7 linked regions of the Homo sapiens genome follow. The protein of the gene in region 1 purifies or fractionates together with the protein of each later gene. This does not show direct contact. Each region holds a gene or a part of one and is shown in the gene's direction. Other genes may lie near its edges. The genes, in order: FGFR2, UBE4A, RPS6KA3, PKP4, CEP295, CHERP and KIDINS220.

The links.
Region 2: the proteins of FGFR2 (region 1) and UBE4A purify together in Homo sapiens (affinity purification with mass spectrometry; 2 studies listed by BioGRID and IntAct, with this or other methods). This does not show direct contact.
Region 3: the proteins of FGFR2 (region 1) and RPS6KA3 purify together in Homo sapiens (affinity purification with mass spectrometry; 4 studies listed by BioGRID and IntAct, with this or other methods). This does not show direct contact.
Region 4: the proteins of FGFR2 (region 1) and PKP4 purify together in Homo sapiens (affinity purification with mass spectrometry; 2 studies listed by BioGRID and IntAct, with this or other methods). This does not show direct contact.
Region 5: the proteins of FGFR2 (region 1) and CEP295 purify together in Homo sapiens (affinity purification with mass spectrometry; 2 studies listed by BioGRID and IntAct, with this or other methods). This does not show direct contact.
Region 6: the proteins of FGFR2 (region 1) and CHERP purify together in Homo sapiens (affinity purification with mass spectrometry; 2 studies listed by BioGRID and IntAct, with this or other methods). This does not show direct contact.
Region 7: the proteins of FGFR2 (region 1) and KIDINS220 purify together in Homo sapiens (affinity purification with mass spectrometry; 2 studies listed by BioGRID and IntAct, with this or other methods). This does not show direct contact.

Annotation. Positions count from the first base shown.
Region 1 is NC_000010.11:121,591,945-121,595,444, reverse strand, and holds part of FGFR2 (fibroblast growth factor receptor 2 isoform 1 precursor), read left to right. Parts: intron 1-1,186; exon of another isoform or gene 1,187-1,477; 5' UTR 1,478-1,570; coding exon of another isoform or gene 1,571-1,627; coding exon 1,628-1,736; intron 1,737-3,500. UniProt on the Homo sapiens protein: Tyrosine-protein kinase that acts as a cell-surface receptor for fibroblast growth factors and plays an essential role in the regulation of cell proliferation, differentiation, migration and apoptosis, and in the regulation of embryonic development.
Region 2 is NC_000011.10:118,366,100-118,369,599, forward strand, and holds part of UBE4A (ubiquitin conjugation factor E4 A), read left to right. Parts: intron 1-2,531; coding exon 2,532-2,705; intron 2,706-3,323; coding exon 3,324-3,436; intron 3,437-3,500.
Region 3 is NC_000023.11:20,260,410-20,263,909, reverse strand, and holds part of RPS6KA3 (ribosomal protein S6 kinase alpha-3), read left to right. Parts: intron 1-3,500. UniProt on the Homo sapiens protein: Serine/threonine-protein kinase that acts downstream of ERK (MAPK1/ERK2 and MAPK3/ERK1) signaling and mediates mitogenic and stress-induced activation of the transcription factors CREB1, ETV1/ER81 and NR4A1/NUR77, regulates translation through RPS6 and EIF4B phosphorylation, and mediates cellular proliferation, survival, and differentiation by modulating mTOR signaling and repressing pro-apoptotic function of BAD and DAPK1.
Region 4 is NC_000002.12:158,463,452-158,466,951, forward strand, and holds part of PKP4 (plakophilin-4), read left to right. Parts: intron 1-3,500. UniProt on the Homo sapiens protein: Plays a role as a regulator of Rho activity during cytokinesis. May play a role in junctional plaques.
Region 5 is NC_000011.10:93,668,182-93,671,681, forward strand, and holds part of CEP295 (centrosomal protein of 295 kDa), read left to right. Parts: intron 1-626; coding exon 627-751; intron 752-1,495; coding exon 1,496-1,589; intron 1,590-3,500. UniProt on the Homo sapiens protein: Centriole-enriched microtubule-binding protein involved in centriole biogenesis.
Region 6 is NC_000019.10:16,525,438-16,528,937, reverse strand, and holds part of CHERP (calcium homeostasis endoplasmic reticulum protein), read left to right. Parts: intron 1-682; coding exon 683-858; intron 859-3,260; coding exon 3,261-3,500. UniProt on the Homo sapiens protein: Involved in calcium homeostasis, growth and proliferation.
Region 7 is NC_000002.12:8,831,114-8,834,613, reverse strand, and holds part of KIDINS220 (kinase D-interacting substrate of 220 kDa), read left to right. Parts: intron 1-3,500. UniProt on the Homo sapiens protein: Promotes a prolonged MAP-kinase signaling by neurotrophins through activation of a Rap1-dependent mechanism. Provides a docking site for the CRKL-C3G complex, resulting in Rap1-dependent sustained ERK activation.

The DNA of each region.
Region 1 (3,500 bases):
GTACACACACACACACTGCACACATACTTTTCTTGCTTTTGCTGTGAATCACACCGTTTCACCTGTGCTATCTTTGAAGCAGAGGTTTTCTTTATTCCTCCTTTGGAAATGATGTGGCATATTCTTTTCCCTCCTCCATTTTTGTCCTCAGTCAAAGCTAAAAGGAGCAGTTTTTATGATGAGATTTGGGGAGGCTCCAGCAGTGTTGAAATCCTATGACATAACTTGAAACATCGAGTGGGTACATAAAAAATGTAGAGTTTAGAGATTTTTGTATTAAAGGCCTCCCTGCCACCCCCAGTCTTAGAAAATGTGGTTCATTCCTGTGGTTCACAGAATCTGAAGCCTGAGATTGATGAGCCCCTTCTTGTGATTGTTTTAATCATTCTCTAAAGTTTGTGCATTTTACTGTACCCTTAGTCACAGAGAGTACTGAGTGAATTTAAAGTTGCTTGGAATATATTAAGCTTTCTTGGAAAATTCTCTTTCCCTTGGATCAAATGGGTGAACAGAATATTAAGTTGAGTGTCCTCTTCTAACTTATACTCTGAAAATTTAGCCAGTAGGTTTGCATATGGAAAGTTATTGGTCCAATCACATACCATGACTATAATTTACATAATTTACATCATCATTATTAATAAATTCCTGCATTATTCATCAGAATTTGCATCTGCTCAGTTTCCTCACCCTTCTACAGAGGTTGAAGACATTTAGCAGCCCTGGACTGCCATTTAGTCACAGGGGAAGGGAATTCAGGCTTCGAAGTCCTTTTTGGATCAGCTGCGTTGAATGCGCTGCAGTTGTGTTCACTCTTCGTAAGTGGCTGCTTGGCGGAAGACTGAAAGACACTTCTCCATTTGAAAATGAATCCTGACAAGTGTAAACTGGTGGGAATTTTCTGTAGCCTTCCTGGGATTCTTTTGATTTTGCTGGTCTCCTTTCTTCCCAAGAGCGACAGTGAGGGTGGGAGACTGCTCACCTCCAGCCCAGCAGAAATACGGAGCTGTGAGCAGACTCCTCCAACAGTTTAGCTTTCTAAAGCCCAGTTGGACTAAGAGAAGGGAACGAGGTTGGTTATGCCAACCCGAGCATTTTTAACTTGCTTTTGTAGTTGCCCTTGAAACTAAGGTCACGTTGCTTCTGCTCATTGAGGGCGGTGGAGGCGATAGTGGATAGTAGAAGAGAGCACACATTGCCTCACTGAAGTGGCTGCACGTATCTGAGTCCTGTAGCTACTGTTTTATCTCTGTTTCTTAAAAGTATGCTTTTAAAAAGATTAGCCTCACACATTTCTGTGGACCGGTCTGGTGGTATCACCTGGGACTCTGAGGTGAGGATGGAAGGATTTAGCAGATAATGAAAAAGAACTCTGTTTGCGCACATTTGAGAGGCTGAAAAATGGTTTTATCCCACTTGGGCTGGAGTGATTTGGCATTGGGGAAGATTCCCTGACTCGCCAATCTCTTTCCTTTAGTGACTGCAGCAGCAGCGGCAGCGCCTCGGTTCCTGAGCCCACCGCAGGCTGAAGGCATTGCGCGTAGTCCATGCCCGTAGAGGAAGTGTGCAGATGGGATTAACGTCCACATGGAGATATGGAAGAGGACCGGGGATTGGTACCGTAACCATGGTCAGCTGGGGTCGTTTCATCTGCCTGGTCGTGGTCACCATGGCAACCTTGTCCCTGGCCCGGCCCTCCTTCAGTTTAGTTGAGGATACCACATTAGAGCCAGAAGGTAAGTCATTTAATTTCACTTTTCAGGTTTGTTTTGGGATTTGTCTGGGGGCAGATTGTTAAGGCCTGTTTTAGAATCAGCTACCCTTGCATTGTAAATGGGGCTTCTAAGAGCACCAGATCGTGGTCTCTTGGCTCCCGGCAAGGCAGAGCTGATGAGAGAAGGTCCTTTGCCGCAGCACTGCAGGCAGGATGGTATAGTTTGGTGGTTTCTTGCTGTGTGTGTTTCTCTGTGCTGGGTGAGGGAGACAGCTGGGAGTTGGCCTTTATCCAGTGCCCGAGAGAGCTGTGGAAGGGATGAACCTTGGGAGGATGAATGTCATCTCTAGTCTCCCCCAGCATCATTCCTACTGCTTACAATGTAAAGAATTGCTATTTTCGGACAAGATGAACCACTAAAAGAAATTGCCAACATCTGAAATGCTGACATCTTATTTTCATTGTTTAAGGAGAAAAGAAGTTTCTGAAGTTTAGCACAGAGAGAGAGGCTTGACATCTCAGAATTTTTTTTTAGCCATTGTAATTCATAATACTTAAGCAATGCATCATCACAGAGTGGCAGATTCTAGTTTAGGTAAACTTGAAAGTGAATGTGCCAGGGGATCTCCTCCAGCTCCGAGAACCTCCAAGTATCACAGGGCATGCGCCGGTGTCACAGCTTTGGAAATTTAATTTTCAAGGTGTAAGTCCAATTACGAGGACTACATGAGGCTGAATTATTCAGCTTAGCAGATTTGGAACCTCTCTCCCAGCCCTTTGGAGACAACGTGAGCCAAGCCTCTACTTGGTGCTGCACTGAAATCTGTCATCAGTAGGGAATATTGGTAGCTGAGTTATTTTTCGAGTGGTAATCCGAGAATAAAACGGCAGATCCCAGCACTCATCGCCACTTAATGAACCTGTTTGTGGAGAGTCCACCTGGTGCCTGCCTGGCTTTAGGAACCCGCAGCAGTCCGAGTGGTGTCTGGGGTAAGCTGAGCTGCTCTGGGAACACATCTCGTGCGTGGGGTGAATGAACAGCACACTTACCCAGTGGGGTAGGCTGGGAGAGGACAGAGAGCCCAGCCTCCTTAGCTGGATCAGGACAGTTTAGGAAGGAGGGTTGCGTCCATCTGAGATGAGAGTTCTGAGAGACATGGGCTCCCCAGGAAGACCCCAGGCACTTGTCATTGAAGGATGAGGACCGAAGCACTTATCACCTGAAGCAATCGTGTGAGACTGGGGAACTTTTCGTTACACAGAGGGATGGCAGCTCTATAATTAACAGGTGTGGTGACATCTCCCTGCGTCTCTGGGAAGGGAATCTGGTAGGAGTTTGTGTCTGAGGCTTGTATAGCTACAGCTACAGGCCGATTATGGAACTGCCTCTTGGTGATTTGTGCTGGGACACCAGGATGAGTGTAATTTGCAGTGGTGATGCATTTTTACAGGGCTTTCATGTAAGAGGGAAAAAGTTCCTGGTTTCTGAAAGTCATGCCTGTACGTCTTTAATTTTGCTAATAATTAAAATGGATGTTTCCGTGATTGCTGGTTTTCCCTTGAGTGCGTGGCTCGGCAAAAACTGAGGAAGCTGAGCTGGGATTTCCTACGGTGTGGGCTTTAGGAGCAACCCAGGTTAGGGAAAAACTGTCATTTTTCATTTTGGCTTTTCAGGGCAGCGTTATTGTGAGTTTATTTCAACATAAAGTGTAAAATGGTCCCAGAGGATTTGTTTTACTGTATTTAATTCTTGAAGGAAGTTTAAAATTGTGTATACATGCAGGGA
Region 2 (3,500 bases), on another chromosome or scaffold:
GGCCTTTCAGTTAGAAAGGGCTGAAGAAAAAAGAGGTAAAGGCAAGACAGATAAGTGATTGATGCAAGGGAAAAACAAAATCAATGTTGATTTTTTTTAACATGGTATTTTCAGTCTCTGAAATCTCTCCCAGATTTCTATGATACGGGGCCAGAATGGGAAACTCTGGTTTAGAAGATTGTAGGGGAAAAAGCAGAGTGAAAAATAGGAAAAATAAGGAATGAGAAAGTATGATTTATGAGTATGTGGTTGAGGGAAATTTTGCTAAACAGATTCTTAGCTTCTGTCACCATTGGAGGTCAGAGAAAAACTCAACAGTATAGCAGCTGAGCAACAGAACGCTTGTCCTTCTGGCTATAAACAGACATAAATCTGGCTAGAGTTGGGAGCATTGCAGGCACATGCCCTTCTGTTACTATTTTGGCACCTCATCATCCTAGTTTGTTTACACTGAGTTTATCATGCCACCAGGTCCAACCTGTTTCCACTAGCAATTAGTACTTTGCCAAAACCTTTGGCTTCCTATGTTGAGCTTATACTCACCACACTGAAACAACTCTTACTTTGAGAGTTTTACCTGGACTTTCAGACTAGCCATTCTGTCAATAGAGAAAAGTACATATAGACTCATATGTGGCATATAGTGAATAACACTACTTTTATGTAGTCATTCAACATGAATGATGGGGCTGGGCGCAGTGGCTCGCGCCTGTAATCCCAGCTCCTTGGGAGGCCTAGGTGGGCAGATCACCGGAGGTCAGGAGTTCGAGACCAGCCTGGCCAACATGACAAAACCCCGTCTCTACTAAAAACACAAAAATTAGTCGGGCATGATGACAGGCGCCTATAATCCCAGCACTCTGGGAGGCCAAGGTGGGCGGATCACCTGAGGTCAGGAGTTTGAGACCAGCCTGGCCAACATGGTGAAACCCCATCTCTACTAAAAATACAAAAATTAGCCGGGCGTGGTGGTGGGCGCCTGTAGTCCCAGCTACTTGGCTGAGGCAGGAGAATCACTTGAACCTGGGAGGTAGAGGTTGCGGTGAGCCGAGATCACACCACTGCACTCCAGCCTGGGCGACAGAGTGAGAGTCCATCTCAAAAAAAAAAATCAAAGGATGGGAGCAGATTTTGAGGACAGAAGTTTAAAAAAAAAAAAATCGAAGGAATTTCATCAATAAGAAAAAAATAACAAGAAAGAATAAAAAGGTACAAAAGATGTGACATGCAACTTATAACCAAATGATTAAAAAATTTATTCTCATCAATCATTAGAGAAGTGCCAATTAAAACAACCATTAAATTGTTTTTTTACCTATGAAATTTGTGAAGATTCAAACAGGCACTCTCTCATATACTGTTGGGTTTGCATGTAAATCAGACAGTCTCTTTGAGGGTAACTTGGTAGTAAATGTTAACTTTTTTTTTTTTTTTTTTTTGAGACGAAGTCTTGCTCTGTCACCGAGGCTGGAGTGCAGTGCAACCTCTGCCTCCCGGGTTTAAGCAATTCTCCTGCCTCAGCCTCCCGAGTAGCTGGGACTACAGGTGTGTGCCACCACGCCTGGCTAATTTTTTGTATTAGTAGGGATGGGGTTTCACCATGTTAGCCAGGATGGTCTCAATCTCCTGACCTCGTGATCCGCCTGCCTCAGCCTCCCAAAGTGCTGGGATTACAGGTGTGAGCCACCGTGCCAGGCAGTAAATGTTAACTTTTTAAATGTTCAAGCTCTTTGATCCAGCAGTTCTGCTACTGTGAATTTATCCTATAGAAATACTCATACAAGTAAACAAAAAGAGTTAAGTTGTATTGTATTCAGTGCAGTATTTAAAATCATGAAATATTAGAAACAACCCTATTGTTCATCAGTTGAAAAGTAGCTACATAAACCACAGGGCATGCAAAAGATGTGATACAATACAGCTATTAAAAATAGTGAGGTAGGCCTCTAAATGGCCTAACAGGGAAAGGTGTTGGTGCTGATTAAAAGGCAAGCTGAAAAGAGCTATGTATAGTATCCCATTTTTTAAAAAAATTAAAAAGATAGTAATGAATATTAGCACCAGAAAAGAAAAAAATTCTTGAACACTGTTAAGTGTCTTTAGGGAATTGGTTCAGGAGACTTTCTATACTATATTTTTCTGTACAGTTAAGAACTATTAAAACAAATGTTATCTCTTAAAATCAGGGAGAAAAGCCATACATTTAAAATAATTAAAGGCATTTTGATCTATTAGGTAATTCTTTGTTCACTAGGATTCTGTAGAGAAGATAACTTTGCTATTTCTGGCAGTGTGGAGTATAATTATGGATAGAAATAAAACTTTTGCTTTGTAAAATGTGGTAGGATTTATAGCCAGGAATTTCAAAACCCTATATTTAACTTCCCTGACTTGAGATGTTCACTAATTAGATGATTAGCTTGTTTTACATCTGAAATTATCATCTTCTTGGTTACATTTATTATTTTTGGTAGCATGCTTGGTTCTCTCTTAAAGGGGTGTAACATTTAACAGTATACATTTTCTGGCAGATGAACTCCCAGCTAGCCCAGATGACTCGGATAATAGCGTGTCAGAGAGCCTGGATGAATTCGATTACTCTGTGGCTGAGATTAGCCGCTCATTCCGATCACAGCAGGAAATATGTGAGCAACTCAACATCAATCACATGATCCAAAGGATCTTCCTTATTACTCTGGACAACAGTGAGTTACAAACTTATAGCATTATTCTACCCTTCCTATTTGAGCTTGGGCTAGGGGCTTGCTCTTTGAAACTGGTTACAGCTAATGGTTAGATACAAACCTACTCACTGCACTCCCTGGAACTCAGGGTTTATATTTCAGTGAACCTTTTGGTATGACCTAAAAACAGTATTTAGATGCAGATCTAACTTTTGTTCCCATTTCAATACTGACTGCACTATATAGCTACTTGCCTTTACTACCTTAAAAAGGAAATGGGAAGGGTAGCCAAACCCATTTTCTTCTCAGAGGTAACCTAAATATTCAGATGGAAGCCTTCAGAGGCATCAGAGAGTGTTTGCCCTCTGTGCCCTGTCTGTGTTTAAACCCCAAGGTTGGTACTAATGTCTGGGATTTACTCTTTAAATGTCATGATGCTAGGTTTATAACAAATCCCATTCTCTGTGACTAGAGGGGGAAAAAAAAAGATTTGAATCTTTAGATGTTGCTTTGTGTATCAGGATCATTCTGGTATTACTTGAGTCAGATTTGCAGTTCAAGAGTGATGCTGTCAAGATCAGTTGTCTGTATAAAACAGAAGCATTATCCTTAACCTATCATATTAAAACCATTTCCCAGGTGATCCCAGCTTGAAAAGCGGGAATGGCATCCCTAGCCGTTGTGTGTATTTGGAAGAAATGGCAGTAGAGCTAGAAGATCAAGACTGGCTTGATATGAGCAATGTTGAGCAGGTAATATTCTTACGTTCCTAATGTGTGCCCTTAGCAAAAATTAGCTATGCGGCTGAATTCTGCT
Region 3 (3,500 bases), on another chromosome or scaffold:
TCAGGATTGGTCTGTGTAGGAGTTTACATTTATGGTCTCATCCCTAGTACACTGTGAATTCTTGAAAGCAGACATTTTTCCCCCCCTCTCTGAATCCTCAGCATTCAGCACAATGCCTGGCCCTGACATATTGTGGACTTAATAAATATCTGCTGAATGAATCATGAAAGTCAGGAATAGGATGATTATGAATCTTATCTGTTTTTTATCATTTTAATCTCATTAAAATATGAACAATTTAAAAAGACCTCAGTGCCTCAGTAAAAACACAGGCAGTTTCTTCAGTTCCTTTACACTGGCCTTCCTGCTTTAAGACCTCACACGAATCTCATGGTGTTCAAAACAAAAAAACCCTTGTGGTTAAACTCAAACGTGGGTCAGAACATGATAGGCTAGAACTAGGCCAAATGTTTAAAGAAGCAAATTTAGGATAATAAAGGAAGTACTATGTAAGCAAAGTAAGGGTTGGTACAAGATAAAAAACAAACTAGCTTCCTAACTGGTCTAGGTGAACTCTTTAGTGAGTTACTTAAAGATGCTAATATGCTTTTGAATATTTGACTGTTTAGAGGATGGATAGGTAGGAATTATGGCTCTTCTGTTGTACAAATTCTTTGCCAGTGCTGTCAGAGACAGCATTTAGTGGATCATAAGCCTGACCTAGAGTGATACTTTTTTCTCCACTGCAATAGAGTAGGTATAAATGATAGTAAATCTAAATATGAAGTTTTCAAAATGATAAAATTATGGAGGTTATTTTTGTTTTATAGAAATGTGTTATATAAAATAGCCACAATATAATGTGTTGTATACAATGTGTATTAAACAATGTGTTGTATGAAAATAGCTACCTCGACTTCCTTTAAATAACAGGTACCCATGATGCACTGAAAAATATTTAAAAAATCAACTATATAAGTATTTTATTATAGAAAATGAGGCCTTTGTGTGGGAGATCATGTTTAGTGAATGTGCAGCCATTTTTAACCTCAAAGATTATGTAGTATTCTATAGTATAGTACATAGATTTTATAGTATTTCTACTATATCAATATTATATAGGTTTCTTATTTTATCTATAGGGAAAATGCTCTATTAAAGTATAATCATTGATTTTGAAAAAAAATGTTTTATTGTTTCTTTTCCTTTTCCTGTTTTATTTTTACCACCTTTCAGGTTTTTTTCTTTCCCCTAAGTGAAGATCTGAGGAGAGGACAGGTATTGTTACATGTCAACTGTCAAGTAACTGTGACCCATTACTGAACACTTCATTGTTTTCAGTGATTATGATAGAGGATGTCAGTTTTGTAAAATCTAGAAAACTTTGCTTTATTTTGGCAGCTTGATCCTGTAGTAATGGGGTAGATTCAAAATGTGAAACTTGCTGGATGCATTTAAATTTTATTAATAAAACTTTTATCTAATTGCAGGAGCAAATATAGGCAGACTTTGTCTTCTCTTTAGTATACATTTCTGGAAACCACAATAAGTATATCTTATTTTTAATAAGACAGGTGGCATAATTGGACTGTGTACTCCTGACCAAGGACTTGACATTTGCTAAATTATAGAATGACCAAAAATACAGATCACTTATCTAGAAGTCTGAGTTGCAGAACAATTGTCCTAAAGTTTTTAAAAATTTTTATTACTAAGAAATTCATACCATTGTGATAATTAACAAGATTTGCTCTACAGTTCAATGCTCAGGGACATGTGATCTGCCAGGCTGTGAATGATGGGTAAGGTCACACTTGCCTGGTTGACCCAGTGCAGAATGGGTGCTTTAGACCCAACGGTTCAGATTATAATGAATGACACACTGACATGGTGGTGGTCTCACTGGTAATGCCTGCGTGTGATAGTGCTCAGTTGTTTATGTGCTTTGGTGGATAACACATTTTAAAGCATTGAAATGCAGCTGTGCAAGTACATATATTATACATCCCGTTCCCCAATTCACATAAATAGAAAAAAACAAGTATCTAAATTGTAATACCTAGCATTCAATGTCTTCCTTCCACCCCACTCCCATCAGTGTGTTCTTTTGGAATTAATACAGTGACCTGTATCATTAACCTGGAGATATCAGATCTCAGATATTCTAGTTTATCAGTTAAACACCAAAAAGCATTAAAACAAAGAAAAACTACCCTATTTAATCGTTCAGTAAAAACTACCATATTTAATCATTAAGTTTTGTCATGATTTAGCAAAACAAACGCAAATGTGTGTGTGTCTGTGTGTGTATGTGTTTTATAAAACAGGTTCAGGATAAAATGTATCCATATAGCACATTATGATTATTTTAATACATTTGGCCTATTTATTTTTTGACAGTTTATCAAGTTGTACAATTTAAAAGCCAATATTTATTAATCCCTAATGTACAGAAACATAGGAGGAAGTTGTCTCTTTGGTTAAACAAACTGTTGAAAGATAAACTTTGGCACACCAAAATGTTTACTTTTCAATTGATAAATAATATTTGTACATTTTTATGGGGTCATGTGATATTTTGTTCCATGCATAGAATGTGTAATGATCACATCAGGGTATTTGGGATATCCATTAATCATTTCTGTGTGTTGGGAACATTTCAAATCCTCTCTTTTAACTATTCTGAAATATATAAAACATTGTTATTAACTATAGTCACCCTACTCTACTCTGCTATCCATTGTTAGAACTTATTCCTTCTATCCAATTGTATGTACTGTGCCCATTAACCAACCTTTCTTCACCCCCACCCCCTCTGTAACCCCCACACTCGTCCTATCCTCTAGTAACTCTCATTCTGAGTAGAAACTCCCTACCTATGAGTCCCACGTGTGAGTAAGAACATGCAGTATTTGTCTTTTTGTCATGTGACCTATTTTAAGCAAATACATTAGTTACTAGTAATTAAGTAATTTGGTTTTTGCTCATTCTTAAAACTTAGAAGGGACTTTGTGGGGTTATTTGGATTAATAGCAAAGTGTTAAAGAACATAAGCTCTGGAGCCATAAAGACCTGTGTTTGAGTCCTGGCTCTGCCACTTAATAACTTTGTAACCCTATGCAAGTTATATTTAATATCTCTATACTTCAACATCCTAATTTGTAAAATAGGGATGAAAATAATGTCTACCTCATAGAGTTTTGGTGAGAATTAAATGAAATGATAATATATGTAAAGTACTTGGTTCAGTACATGGTTTAAGTTTTTAATAAACAATAGTTACAATGAATCATCCCTCTTAAAGAACTGTCTCAGTTCTTTGTTTTTCCTCTGGGGTAATTTTTTAGAATCCAGCAAAGCAATTAAAAGTGATTTATTTGATTGATCAGTTTAAATAGTCATGGTAATATCTGAACGTAATTGAAAGGGCAAGGGGAACAGAAATCTCTTTAATCTTACCCTTTTTGCATTGATCCCTTCCTCAGTATTGTCTTTAAAGGGAAAAAACAACATTGTGAAGAATATATGTGGAAGAAGGAAGAAAGGAAAGTTTGTTCACA
Region 4 (3,500 bases), on another chromosome or scaffold:
CTCCCAAATCAAGAAAGGCTAGAAAAGAGGAAGGGGGTTTGGAATATACATGATATAAATCAACAGACAGTGGTTAAATAGATATCAAGAGGCTCTAGTTCTAGTCCTGGCTTTGCCACTATGCAGGTGTGTGTCCCATGAGCACATCATGTAACTCTCGTGGGCTTTAGTTTTCTTGTCTATAAAATGAGGGAGTTGGTCTAGATGCTCTCTAGAGTCCCTCTAGTACTTACATTTCGCAACTCTTAGAACATCAAGCCATTACATTTTTTCCTCAGCAAGAATATGCTGTCTTCCCAAGGATTTATGACAATTTACCCTCTGGGATAAGGAGGGAAAATTGAAGTTGTATACTTGAAATTCTCAGCTCCTGAAAATATGTGTCGCAGCCAGACAAACCTGTGACCCCTCTGTGGCTGAGTCAGTGGCTCCGTGTCTTGTGCGGTAGTGGTGAAGTGCTCCAGGAGTGAGGATCCCTGGGGCCCCTCGGGGCAGGAGCTGAGCAGTGAGCCTTTATGGAGCTGCACATCTGCAGTTTGTCACAGCCCTGACTTCTGGGACTTACTTGTCTACAACCAGTCCCCTGTGCACATTGGAGGCTTCACCTCTGATTGAGACTACATTTTTCAGAAGTTGGATAGAAACAAGAAAGGGGATTTAGCATGGTGGTTAGAAGGGACTAGTCTTGTTACAGTGAGAAAGATCCACTTCTTACTTGCTCAGATGGTTTGATTTGTCCTCAGAGAAGTTAAACAACTGACAGAGTTGCTCCTCTGAAAACATTTTGTATGAATACTTTAGGTTCATAGGGAACTCGTCAATCCATATCTCATAGAATAGAGGGACTTTTCATTCAAGTCTAATTTTTACATATAGACAATCTACCAGTGTTCAGAAATTGTGGCAGATTTCATGAGGAGAATTTTTTACTTGGATTTGTGCTCTTCTATAAAAAGTAATTTAAAAATTCAGTGATGAAAGTTTCTCCTAGACCCTGTTCTCTTCCTTTGTGGAGAAAAAAAATCCGTATAGAACTCTAGTATGTATTTATCTATAAAACAATTGTTTAAAAATATTGAGGTTAGCTCTTCCCCTTTGCTAATGCAATAAGCACATTATTTGCAAAGGGAAGCATTAATTATACTACTATTGTATGCAGTATTAAATGAATTGTCAATGTCACGATCAAAATAAACCCTTGAAGAACTGGCTGTTGTTCCCATACCTTCATGAGAATTGTAAACACTCATGTAAAATAGAAACCATTATTTACCACTTTGCAGTGAAATGGATCATGTGTTCTGACACCTGTACCCTGAGTTGAGTGGGAAACAGGGACTGTTTGATGAATTAAAGGTAACTTTATTCCTGTATACCACTAGGGGTGCAAGTGAGGGGACTGTAGACAATTAGTACTTTAGATATTTGTTGGAGTCCTGCTGTGTGTGCAGTATTGTGTTTCATTTTGCATACTTATTTAAAACGATACTACTTATTTGAAATGATTCATTTTAGTTCATTTTAACCAACATTTTTTAGTCCCCTACTCCATATCAGACTGATAGGCCTTATGGCCAAAAAGATGACTTCCTCCAGGGATACTTACTGTCTGTGTTAGATTCAGTAATGGGAGTCTCGGTCTTTAAGGAATCCATGATACATTTTTCAGTCTGGTTGGGAAAGATAAGACACATGAGGTAGAGAAGATTGTCCTAGAAATGTTGGTATATAAATAAGCATGTAACATTGTTTCATAAGTATTAAGGATGAGCTATAAAATAACTAGGTTGTAGCTCATACTTCTACTTGCTTAATTGTGTATTACATGATAAATTACCCGATTCTAGAGATATGCACTAACCACTCTCATTAGCTTTCTTTGGGAAAAGTCTGCACCAAAGATAAATAGTGATTTCAAAATAAGTTTTAATCATGAACTTGATTATTTTGGCTGTATCTCTTGAAACACTTTACCATATAGCCTATGTGAAATAATTAATCATAATGACAATACATGATTTATGAGAAACCATAATTTATGCTGTAAGACCTGCCATTTTATTACATTCTTATTTTTATTTTTCATGCAGCAGTATTTTCGTTTATTGTGTTTTGTGCTTTTCTTTTATTCTCTATGTAATTTGTGTGCCTTTATAAGCCCAAACTTGCTGTTGAAAATATTCCCTCCCATTGTTATGAATAAACAGAATGTTTCAAAATCTCTCGTGATGTATGCTAGAATAAATGGTCTCATTGAATCTTACTTTGAATCTCAGAATGATGCACTGATGGGAATTTTTCACTTACTGTCATTTTGTCGACAACTACATAAGCAGTAAGTCTGTTTAAAAAAGGCACTGACTAAGGAATCACAAAATCCAACTGGACTTCACAAGAACTATTAATACTATTAGTCTGAGACCTGTGATAAACAACTCAGATGTTAAAGGTCTAATTCAGACTGTCAACAGATGAAAAATAAGTGTCAGTCTGAAATCTTCGGATAGTATATCGGCAAGTGTCAGTCTTCCAAAATATTATTTAGAACTGTGAATATAATTTTTCACAGAAGCAACATTAATCCATAAATCTCCCGTCCTGTAGTGTAACTATAGTATATCAGTTCCATGGGAAAATAGTCCTGCTCTAAGCTACTCAACAGCAGGGACTTTATCTTTCTACAGGACTTAAATCTTGACCTCCAGTGGTTCTACATACCTTAAGTGAATGAATGAGTTTGAATTCTAGTTTTGAACACCTTCACCTGCTACTCTTGGATAATCGTGTCTGTTTGTGCCTAGTACCTATCCTCTGTCCTTTTGTAAACTGGTCTGAGACCCTGATACCATTTATCCTGCATGTTTCAAAGGAAAAAACTATTTAGACTTTAAAAAAATGCTTTTCTAATACAACTTGCTAGATAAATAATTCATTATACCAAATTCCTTAGTAAAGAAATTAACGGCTGGGTGCAGTGGCTCACACCTGTAATCCCAGCACTTTGGGAGGCTGAGGCAGGTGGATCACTTGAGATTAGGAGTTCAAGACCAGCCTGGACAACATGGTGAAACCCCATCTCTACTAAAAATACAAAAAAAAAAAAATTAGCCAGGCGTGGTGGCGGGCGCCTGTAGTCCCAGCTACTTGGGAGGCTGAGGTGAGAGAATCACGTGAACCCGTGAGGCAGAGGTTGCAGTGGGCAGAGATTGCACCACTGCACTCCAGCCTGGGTGACAGAGCGAAACTCCATTTCAAAAAGAAATTAATTAGAAGATTTTAAACAGATTGGTTCATATTCATTTTAAACTTAATTGCCTGGATTATAACCATAGTGAGATGAGTTTTCATAATGCTCTTTATCATACTACTAATAGGCACCAATCAAGCACCAAGACTAAGCTAAGCTTTGAAAGTGTGATATTGAGCAAACTTTCTGTATCTGTACCTTTTGTGAATCAGTAATATCTTTGTATACTCAGTTGAAGAGTTAAGACAGAAGT
Region 5 (3,500 bases), on another chromosome or scaffold:
GAAAGTCACAGTAAGTCTGCCCCATTATTTTGATTTATTGTGATTTATGATGTGGAAATACTACAGTCCCAGAATCAGTCACATACAGTAAACAAGCTAGTTACAAAGAAGGTAAATCTTTGATAACAACTAGTGAGAAAGAAAATATCTTAAGACTGTGGCAATCTGTTTCATGGTCCTTGGTTTTAGTCTGTGTTTTTAGTAATAGCCGTAAGTTCTGACTCAGGTTTTTGTGGTTTTATGCATGCCACATTAAGTTTGTGCCTAATGCAATGTTTCCCAAACCTCTGTTATTTGAATACCATGTTCACAATTTTTGCCCTGACTGGGAAACTACCCATATCACTATATATTTTACGTACTTTAACCATGTCCTAAGTAGTTCGATATCCTATTTATATTTTTGTAATAATGTTAATTGATTGCATTAACTTTACATTAAAATGTTTGTGTTTGTCCCCCCTAATATGGCATATCATCAGTGGTACTGTTGTCATGCTCTGGGAAACACTGCTATAGTATGTAGAAAGAAGATGACAAAATTGATAAATCACTTCTGATATCATATGAGACACATTTCTATTATTCTTGTTTAACATGACATTTTAAGTAATATATATTTTTAGGAACCTGATTTGGATGCTTTGGCACAGCGGGCAGCAGAAAGGAAAAGAAAAGCAGATTTGAGGCATAAAGAAGCCTTGAAAGTACAGAAAAATCAAAAAGAAATATTACTGAAACAAAAAACCTGGTAAAGTAATAATTTTTACTATAATCTCAACTGAAACTAACATGGTTGAAAGTAGAGGATACATAGGATACTGTGTAAGCAAATATTAAATAAACATAGTAGCATATTCATTGCATTTGTTAAACTTGATTTAAAAATAATGTTGGGGACAGGGAATGATTTGCTTAGGTGAACATAGTAACTAATGAGCTTTCTTTTCTAGTTGTAGTTTGAGTTGAGTTTAGCAGCAGTTACTAAGTTTCTGAAAAAATATATGGCTACTTCAGAATGCATGTCAACCAATGTCTGTTTCCGATGTAAACATGAAATAAAAATTGATGTGATTAAGAACATTAAAAGAGGTTGTAGACTCTGGAAGTCATTAGTATTTTTTGCATGTTGTAAAAATTAAAGGGCCATTCACAGGAAACGTGAGTGAAGCAAAGTAAAAAATTAAGGGCCCTGTTACTAGTTAGCAACAGCCATTTTTAACAACATTTCTGTTTTTTTTTTTTTCACTCTAAAGAACATTATAAGTTTCTTGGGTTGGTCCCCACCATAGAGCTTTCTGTCTTTAGATAGGCCTCTCTCAATTTGTAAACATTTTCTTAACATATGTATAGACTCTTTACACATGTAAAGCTTACTGAGCCTGTGGAATCAGACTAGAGGATTTCTTGAGCCTATGACTTACATATTTTTAACCCTGTTGTACTATAATATTATCACTGAGAGATTAATTGATGACATCTCTTGTTTCTTAAGGCATATAAAAGCTCGAAAGGAAGCACTGCTTGTGGAAAAAGAGAGATCAGCCAAAATTACAAGTCTGCCACCTCCTCCTCCAACTCTTTTTGAGGTGAGTTTGAGTATTAAGAGGAACTAGGTCATAATTCTTCTTTACTATTATAATTCAGTGGAGGTCAGAATGACTATCACTTAAACTTAATTGTACAAGTTTTCTTGTACAATTAAAAACTTGTACAGGAGTATATCTGGAGTATGTTAAAATAATTCTAGATATCATTTCACCTGTAAATACTTTAGTATGTATCTCTGATGTATAAGGACTTTTTTCTTAGTATAATACTAATATTGTTTCCAATATTATTTAATACCCAGTATTTGTTCAGCCTTCCTCAATGATGTCAAAAAAATTTTGTTGTTTGGAAAACTATAATGGTTTTGGTTTTGAAAAATCTTTTAATAATTCTGCCTTTTGAAAAAATACCCTTTATTTATTTATTGGGGGAAAAAACTAAACTATTCGTCCATTAGGCTTTCCCACACTCTGAATTTGGCTTATTTTAAATGGTCAATATTTTACAGATAAGTTTCAGTTAAGTTAATAAATTTACATAAGATTATAAAGTATCCAGGTGTGATTTTAAAAAAGAAAAGAGGAAAAAAATATTATAAAATAATAAGGATCTATTTTTTATGGGAGTAAAATGTGTGCTTTTGTGATTTGAAGCTTATTTTTTTTAAAAAAATGTAATTAAAGCAGAAATTTTTTAAAATACTTGTTCTCCACATTAGCTTGTTATAGTTATTGAAATGGCTATTTGGATGATTGTCAAAATTACCTAGTTATTTTTATCTGAAGAATGAAGTAGAAGTAAACCCAGAAATACATAGTTGTACATACAAGTATATTCTGTATAAGCATAAGTACCAGATACTCACTTCTTAGGCCTTTCAGTTTGTCAGCCTTCCTGCTTGTACGTTGAGCCATCTACCATGTAACATTTGATCCAACAAAATTCAGACGGAAAAGTTGTATTTCAGTCACTCCTTCGGTACAAAGTGACATGATAAAAGCCAGGCAATGTATTATCCATGATGCCTTTTGATTATTTTTGTCTTAATTCTTAGTATTTATAACAAGCCAAAGTCAAAAATTTATAAAAAGTAAACAAAACTCTGTAAGTGCTTTGACAAGCATGAATTAATCAGTGGGCATGAACTATTTAGTTCTTTTTTTCTTTTGAGGCAGAGTCTTGCTCTGTCACCCAGGCTGGAGTGCAGTGGTGCAATCTTGGCTCACTGCAGCCTCTACCTCCTGGGTTCCAGCGATCCTCCCACCTCAGCCTCCTAGGTAGCTGGGATTATAGGCATCTGCCACCATGCCCCGCTAATTTTTCTGTTTTTAGTAGAGACGGGGTTTCACCATGTTGGCCAGGCTGGTCTCGAACTCCTGACCTCAGATGATCCACCCACCTCTGCCTCCCAAAGTGCTAGGATTACAGATGTGAGCCACTGCACCCAGCCTCGTTCCTTTTAGGAAAACAGGATATATTCCTTGTTTTTCCTCTCTGCCAGTTTTCAGAGTAAAGGGTTGGGGTAATAATCAATGCCATTGGTGGTAAATGGGTTTTTTTTTCCTTTCTCTTTTGTTACTATCACTGTTAACTTGTGGGGGTTTTTTACTCAATATTACATAGTCAATTATAGTCATTCTTTTTCTTCTCACTGATGTTCGTAATATCTGAAATTTGGTCAGCAGGAGACTTGAAGTTGTTTCTTGCGTCCCCGTGACTCCATGAGCATTTCCTTGCTCTGTGCCCCAGCAAATGACCTAGGCTTAATTTACTCTGTCCCGTATCTGGTATCTCCAAAGACCCCTGATTCTTTTTAGTGGAGAAGTGGTACTTATAAACTAAGATCTGGGTGATTATATTCTTGTTTCACTAAAAGGCATTATTTTAGAAAAATACATTACCCAAGCCAATAAAGGTGTTTGGGATAAGGCAGTGTTTCTGAATGTCTT
Region 6 (3,500 bases), on another chromosome or scaffold:
TCTGTCGCCCAGGCTGGAGTGCAGTGGCGTGATCTCAGCTCACTGCAAGCTCCGCTTCCTGGGTTCACGCCATTCTCCTACCTCAGCCTCCTGAGTAGCTAGGACTACAGGCGCACGCAACCATGCCCAGCTACTTTTTTGTATTTTTAGTAGAGACGGGGTTTCACCGTGTTAGCCAGGATGGTCTCGATCTCCTGACCTTGGGATCCACCCACCTCAGCCTCCCAAAGTGCTGGGATTACAGGCGTGAGCCACCGCACCCGGCCTAGCAAAGGATTTTAAAATTACATTCTGATCAAAGAAGATTTGTTGTAGGAATATGAGGATTGTATAGAATAGAAAATAACAGATGTGGGGAAATGACCTTTTAATTAGATACAGTAAAGATGTCTAATCAAATTCAGTGTGGATAGAAATTCTTCAGCAAACCAAGAAGGCAGAAGTGAGGCCTGTTTCTTGTAAAGCTTTGAAAAGGACAGATGTGTGTCATGTTCAAGGTCGAAACCTCCCCTCGCCCTGTCCCCTTCCTGGAAGCCAGTGATAGTCATGGTTTTAGTGGGTCCTGAAGCGATCATCCACTGGGCACTAAAAGCGGTAGCCTGGTTTGCTCTGGGGTAGTGTGGAGAGGAGACAGCGCCTCCTGCTGCCAGGCCTGCTCTAACTGCCTGTCACTTGGATTTAGATGACAGCAAGCCTCCCATCCAGATGCCTGGCTCTTCAGAGTACGAAGCTCCAGGAGGGGTCCAGGATCCTGCAGCTGCCGGCCCCCGGGGCCCCGGGCCACACGACCAGATCCCACCAAACAAGCCCCCTTGGTTTGACCAGCCTCACCCCGTGGCTCCTTGGGGCCAGCAGCAGGTATTGATTGGAACCTGGGGTGGGAGCAGATGGGGCACACTTGGCCTGATGGGGTAGCCTCCCCTATGCCAGTTGGTGGGCGTTGAGTGGCTTACTGGGGAACAATGAGGGATATTCTGTGGCAGAGCTTATGCTGGGTTAGTGACAGCCCTGTCTTCCTGTGGCTCCGGGACAGGTCAAGTGACAGGTCTTCACGTCCCTTCCCCGAGCTTTGATGGTTTGGGCTTCTCTGTAGTATAGATCACCATTGTCCTGCGAGTGCAGGGGAGTTTAACGCTGCAAGGCACGGCAGGGTGTTCTGTTTCCTGTCCTCCTTAAACAGGTTAAGCTAGTTGAGTGTCAGTGTTTTGTCATCCTGGAAAGAACAAGGTGCTTTTGTAAGGAAAGGGGGAATGTCAGAAATGTCAGCCGTGTTGCCCCTGGGAGGCCTCAGATGCAGCTTTGCTATGGGTCACATACCCCTGGGCCAAGGCAGGGGCCACCTTATGTGGCACAGCATGGCTGTGAAATGCCCTGCAGCGTGCTGGGTCCACTTTCAGCACTGAGGCACAGCCCCGGGTCTTCCAGGGCGTGACTTTCCCCCTTGCCCGTGGGGCCTGGTTGGCTTCGCAGCGTGGCCTTTCCAGGTGACTCCCTGTCTGCAGGGACAGGTGTAAGGATGGCAAGGAGACTGGCTCTGGACTGAGACTTGGTGGTTGTGGCTTTGAGCCTCCCATCCCCAGCTTCAGGACACGAAATTGAACCTCACAAAAGATTGGACACCCCCATAAAGACAGCTCCCACCTCCAAGTGCTGGCCAGGAGCCAGATGGTGGTGGCTGTTTTGCAGGTACCCTCTGCTGGGGGGGGCAGTTCTTGTCCCTGTTTTGTAGGTGTGGAAACAGGCCCTTAGTGTCTCCAGGCTCAGTCTTTTTGCAGACCAGAGGGTTGGGCTCAGGACAATGGGCACGCCCCTCACTGAGGGTGCCCGCTAGGCCAGCAGTGCATCCTGCAGTCCACACTGAGAAACAGCAGCCTGGCCTGCTTGACTTGGCCATGTGGGGTCTTAACACGTTTAAAAGTAATTTCTCAAGGCAGGAAGATTGCTTGAGGCCAGGAGTTTGGGACCAGCCTGGGCAACAAGGCAAGACTCCATCTCTACAAAGAATAAAAATAAGCTGGCATGGTGGTGCACACCTGTCGTCCCAGCTACACAGTGGTCTGAGGCAGGAAGATTGGTTCAGCCAGGACTTCAGGCTTCATTGAGCTATGGTCATGCCACTGCATTCCAGCCTGGGTGACAGAGTGAGACCTTGTCTCTAAAAAAGAAAAGCAAGGCTGGGCGTGGTGGCTAACGCCTGTAATCCCACACTTTGGGAGGCTGAGGTGGGCAGATCATTTGAGGTCAGGAGTTTGAGACCAGCCTGGCCAACGTGGTGAAACCTCGCCTCTACTAAAGATAAAAAAATAGCCGGGCATGGTGCCAGGCGCCTATAATCCCAGCTACTCGAGAAGCTGAGGCAGGAGAATCACCTGAACCCGGGAGGTGGAAGTTGCAGTGAGCCAAGATCGCGCCACTGCACTCCAGCCTGGGCAACAGAGCGAGACTGTCTCAAATTAAGAAAAAGAAAAACAAGTAGTTCCTGATATTTAATATCTGGCTCTCTGGCTTCTCTTGGAAGCCTGGTGAATGTGGCAGCCTGGGCCAGCCTCCCCTTAGTAGGGGTCAGCGCAGTTACCCAGCTGTGACCCTAGACACCGGCCTTCTCATTGGCCTCTGTGCTCCTCCCCTCCCCTGCCCAAGCTGGAGTTTGCCCTCCTGGCTTTAAGTCTCCAGAGCAGAAGCTGATGAGGGAAGAGCCTCCCGTCTTCAGTCTACAGGAAGATGCTGGCTTGGTTTGAAAGTCCCCAGAAGCAGACCCCAGGACAAGGATGTGTGTGCCGCAGTGTATCTGCCCAGCAGACGGCTTTTGGGGAGAGGGGGAGTGAGGCAGGGCAGGGGGTGTCAGAGTGAGCCCCGCCCCATGGGTGCCTGGGGTGCCCTGAGAAGCGATACCGTCTGTGCCTCTGCACCTGCCCCTGAGGGGCGAGGGAGCTGGCGTTTGTCTGGCAGTGGTAGCGGGGAGCACCTTGTGGCGCGGGCGGCCTGTGTGCGGGTGCAGCGCGCCCCAGCGGCAGAAACAGCCCCGGGACTGAGATGCGGGTGCAGCGGTTGGGTGTCTGGTCATTTTGCAGCAGCATGTGGTGCGGGCTGAGAGCAGGTGCCCAGCATCCTCGCAGGCGTCAGCGTAGGAGGCGCCTCAACGTGGCCAGGGCAGCGCCTCCATGGTCTGAGCCAGCGCTGTGATGCTGCCGAGCGCTGTGATGCTGCCGAGCACTAGGGCCTAGACCACGCAGGGCTCAAGCCTGTCCCTTCCCTTGCAGCCGCCAGAGCAGCCACCCTACCCGCACCACCAGGGCGGCCCACCCCACTGCCCCCCCTGGAACAACAGCCATGAGGGCATGTGGGGCGAGCAGCGCGGTGACCCCGGCTGGAACGGCCAGCGCGACGCGCCCTGGAACAACCAGCCCGACGCCGCCTGGAACAGCCAGTTCGAGGGCCCCTGGAACAGCCAGCACGAGCAGCCGCCCTGGGGCGGGGGCCAGCGCGAGCCACCCTTCCGC
Region 7 (3,500 bases), on another chromosome or scaffold:
TAGTCTTTATTCTCATTGAGCTACATTTGTTTGGCTAGGGGAAGCAGACCAAAAACAAAGTATGTGGTATGTGGAGTGATGCTAGGTGTTATAAAGAAGACCTTTAAAGTAGGGCTGTGGAAGGGGGATATAGTAGAGGGGGAGAGGGCTGTTTTATACACGTATAAATGGTATACACCATTTATACACGGTGGTCAGAGAAGCTCTGATCAGGTGACGTATGTACAGAAAGTCACTGTGGCCTGAGTAGAGTCAAGGAGAAGGAGCAGCAAGAGTTGAGCTTAGGGAGGTGGAGAAGGGGTGGAATAGATCAAGCAAGGCCTTGGCCCTGGTAGGGATCTGGGATTTTGAGTGAGAGGACAACCGTTGGGATGTTTTGAGCACAGAATGGTTGTAAGAAGACACGATTCAGGAGGACCACTTAGGCCTCTGTGTGGAGGGGGCAAGCGCTGCCACCCAGGCCCAGGAATGTCAGCACCAGGGTAGGCTCTGGGGACTGCACAGGGGTGATTGTTGCTGGAGACTTAAGTGGGAGGAGGAGAAGAGGGGCTGGAGATAGAGAACCATGGGAGGGGCCACATTCAGGAACTTACTGTGTCGTATCTGGAGGATAAGAAATAAGTAAGCCTTGGGCAGCATGGCACTATTGTTGCTTTCATGCACTGTGTCTGTAACCGGAGAAAAGTTATAGGGTGCGTCTATTAACCGATTGGCCTTTTGGTGAAAGCATTTTGAATACATTTAGAGATTTTGCCTATTAAATTGGCAAGTTCTAAAAATGGACTTACTACAACATAAATTTTTTGTTCTGACATTGCTGTTGGCTACATCTGCCATTTTCAAAACGGGTGGCAAGACATTAATTTTTTTGCTAATTGTGCAAAAGAATGTATAGCCTTATATTCCCATTAGAGAGAAAGTGCTGTGGACATTAGATTCAACTGATGTCCATTTATTCAAGAAATATAGTGTCTTGTATGGGCCAGCTATTAAGCTAAGTGTTGGGTATTTGGTATAGAACGAAAGAAAATAATTCATTCCTTTTAAAAGCTTATATCCTAGTGGGAGAGACAGCTATTAATCAGGTAAATATGTCCCATTCCAGCAGGTGTAGCTAAAAAAAAAAAAAAAAAAGACAAATTTAAAAAACATAAATATGTAAATTACAAGTTTAGTAAAGTGTTATGAAGGAATAAAAAAGATTCCATAATAGAGAACAATCCAGGTTATGAGAATCAACCAAGAAAGGGTGGTTAAGAAATGATCATATTCTGTTATTATGTAAAACAGCTAATATTTATTGGCTTCATATGGGTTAGGTATTATTTTAATCCCATTGCATGTAATTGTGCAGTTATTTGAAGATGGGGAAACTCAGACACTGAGGTGAAGAAACTACCCCAGGGGACAGGGAGTGATAAAGAGAGGCTGGTTAATAAGTACAGACATACAGTTAGGTAGAAGGAGTAAGCTGTAGTGTTCAGCAGCATGGTACTATGCTTAACAGTTTATTGTGTATTTTATTTTTTATGGTATATTTTAAAGTAGCTAGAAGATAAGATTTGAGATGTTCCCAGCACCAAGAAATGAGAAAAGTTTGAGGTGATGGATATCCTAAATACTCTGATTTGATCATCACACATCCTATGCATGTAATCCAAATATTACACATACCCCATAAACATGTACAATTATTATGTATTAGTTAAAAAAATTAAGGAAAAAAAAAAGAAACTAGCCTGGGATGATATAATGGTCAGTAGTAAAGTCAGGAGTCAAACCAAGGTAGTCTGGCTCTAGGGTCCATACTTTTGACCACTAGACAGCTTCGTTTTAAGCCGAAAGGGCTTTTGGAAGTGAACGTTGAACTGAAATGTGAAAGATGAGAAGCTGTAGTTTTCCTCCTGTGATGAAACATTTTTTTTTCTATTGAAAATGAACGTAGACTTAATACATCAAGTAAAACAATATAGCACAAAGACGCGTGAAGGCAAAGCTAATCATCTCCTCCTTTTAGTCCTACATGGTAAGATAACGAATTTTACAGCCAGGTGTGTGTCCTTCCACACTTTTCTTTTTGTTCATGTGTACACACTGGATAGATACATATATGGGGGTCTTATTTATTTTATCAAGTAGAATTATACTACACACGTGCTCTTAAACATGACAGCGTGTCATTGGTTTTACTATTGTGTGTATCAACAGATGTGGATTTAATGTTCTAATTTTATTTTGTAATTTCTAGGCACTTATATATGTGCTTACAAACATCTTATGACATTTAATAATCAATTATTCAGTGAAATTTATTAAACACTGTCAGTGCCCTCTAGTCAAAGACTGCCAGGAACATACCTCTAGTTGAACAAAGTTGGTCTTATTAACTCCCTGCAATGAAGGAGAATGCCTGTCCTAGGGAACGTTGGGGGTCTCTGTAACAGGTTGTTAGAAAGGACTTAGAAGATTCGAGATGATGTTAGGTGATTCGGGGAAGAGTTCAAGGAAGCAAAGCTTTGCTCAGTCTCGGGTGCTTCAGGAATAAGGAGGAGTGGGAATTCTGCAATTGGATATTTAAAATCTTAACGAAAAGGCAAGAGGTATGGAGTAAGGCTAAAGCTGTAATTGATAAAGAAGCAGCAATGCTTCATATTAGCCACGATAGGAAGATGTTTGGGCATTTTGTGGTTTGGGTGATGTTCATGTTTTTGTCTATGTTCAGATATGATTCCAGAGTAGTCTTATTTTTGTCTTCATATCCTGGTGACAGAGTGACCTTGTTTGATGTTGGCATTCTTTGAAATTGTTGCATTTATGTTAGAACACCAAGTCTGGCTGTGTGTGCCGGGTCAGTTCCCGACAGTCAGGGGCTGCTTTTCTCTCTCACCTCCTGTTGTGTAGGCATTGTGCTAGATATAAAGCAGATCCTGCTGCAAGAACTTCTAGTCTAAGGGAGATGTGGAGAGAGTGAGTAAAATGGAGAGGAGAGTTGAGTGTGATGTGAGCAGTCTACAACTAGATGTATACACAGGTGTGGAGGAGCCCAGGGCCTGGCCCAGCTTGGGGTAAGCAGCCAGTCAATGAAGGCTTCCAGAAGATCTGTTAGAGCCATGTTCTTAAGGATGGGTAGGAGCTGTTCAGGCATATATACGTGGAGAATGGACTTTCTAAGCAGAGGGGGCATTAAGTGCAAAGGTCTGGAAAGAACAAAGTGTGGGGCAGTGAAGGAGCTGCAAGTAGATCAGTCTGGCTGGAGCTGGAGGTGTAGATGTGACTATGTAGAGGGTGGGAGGGATGGGGCTGAGGAGGGGAGAAAGATAAGGCTGGAATGGTAAGATGGGGCCAGATTGTGAAGAATCTGCATGCCCTCATCATAATCAAGAATTGAACTTACTGAGTTTTCACTCTGCTCAGTGGAGAGCAAAGCTTTCCGTAGGAATTGTGTATTTGCATCTTTACAATGGCTTTAAAAGCCTTAGAAGGCGTAAGTTCCTTGAATA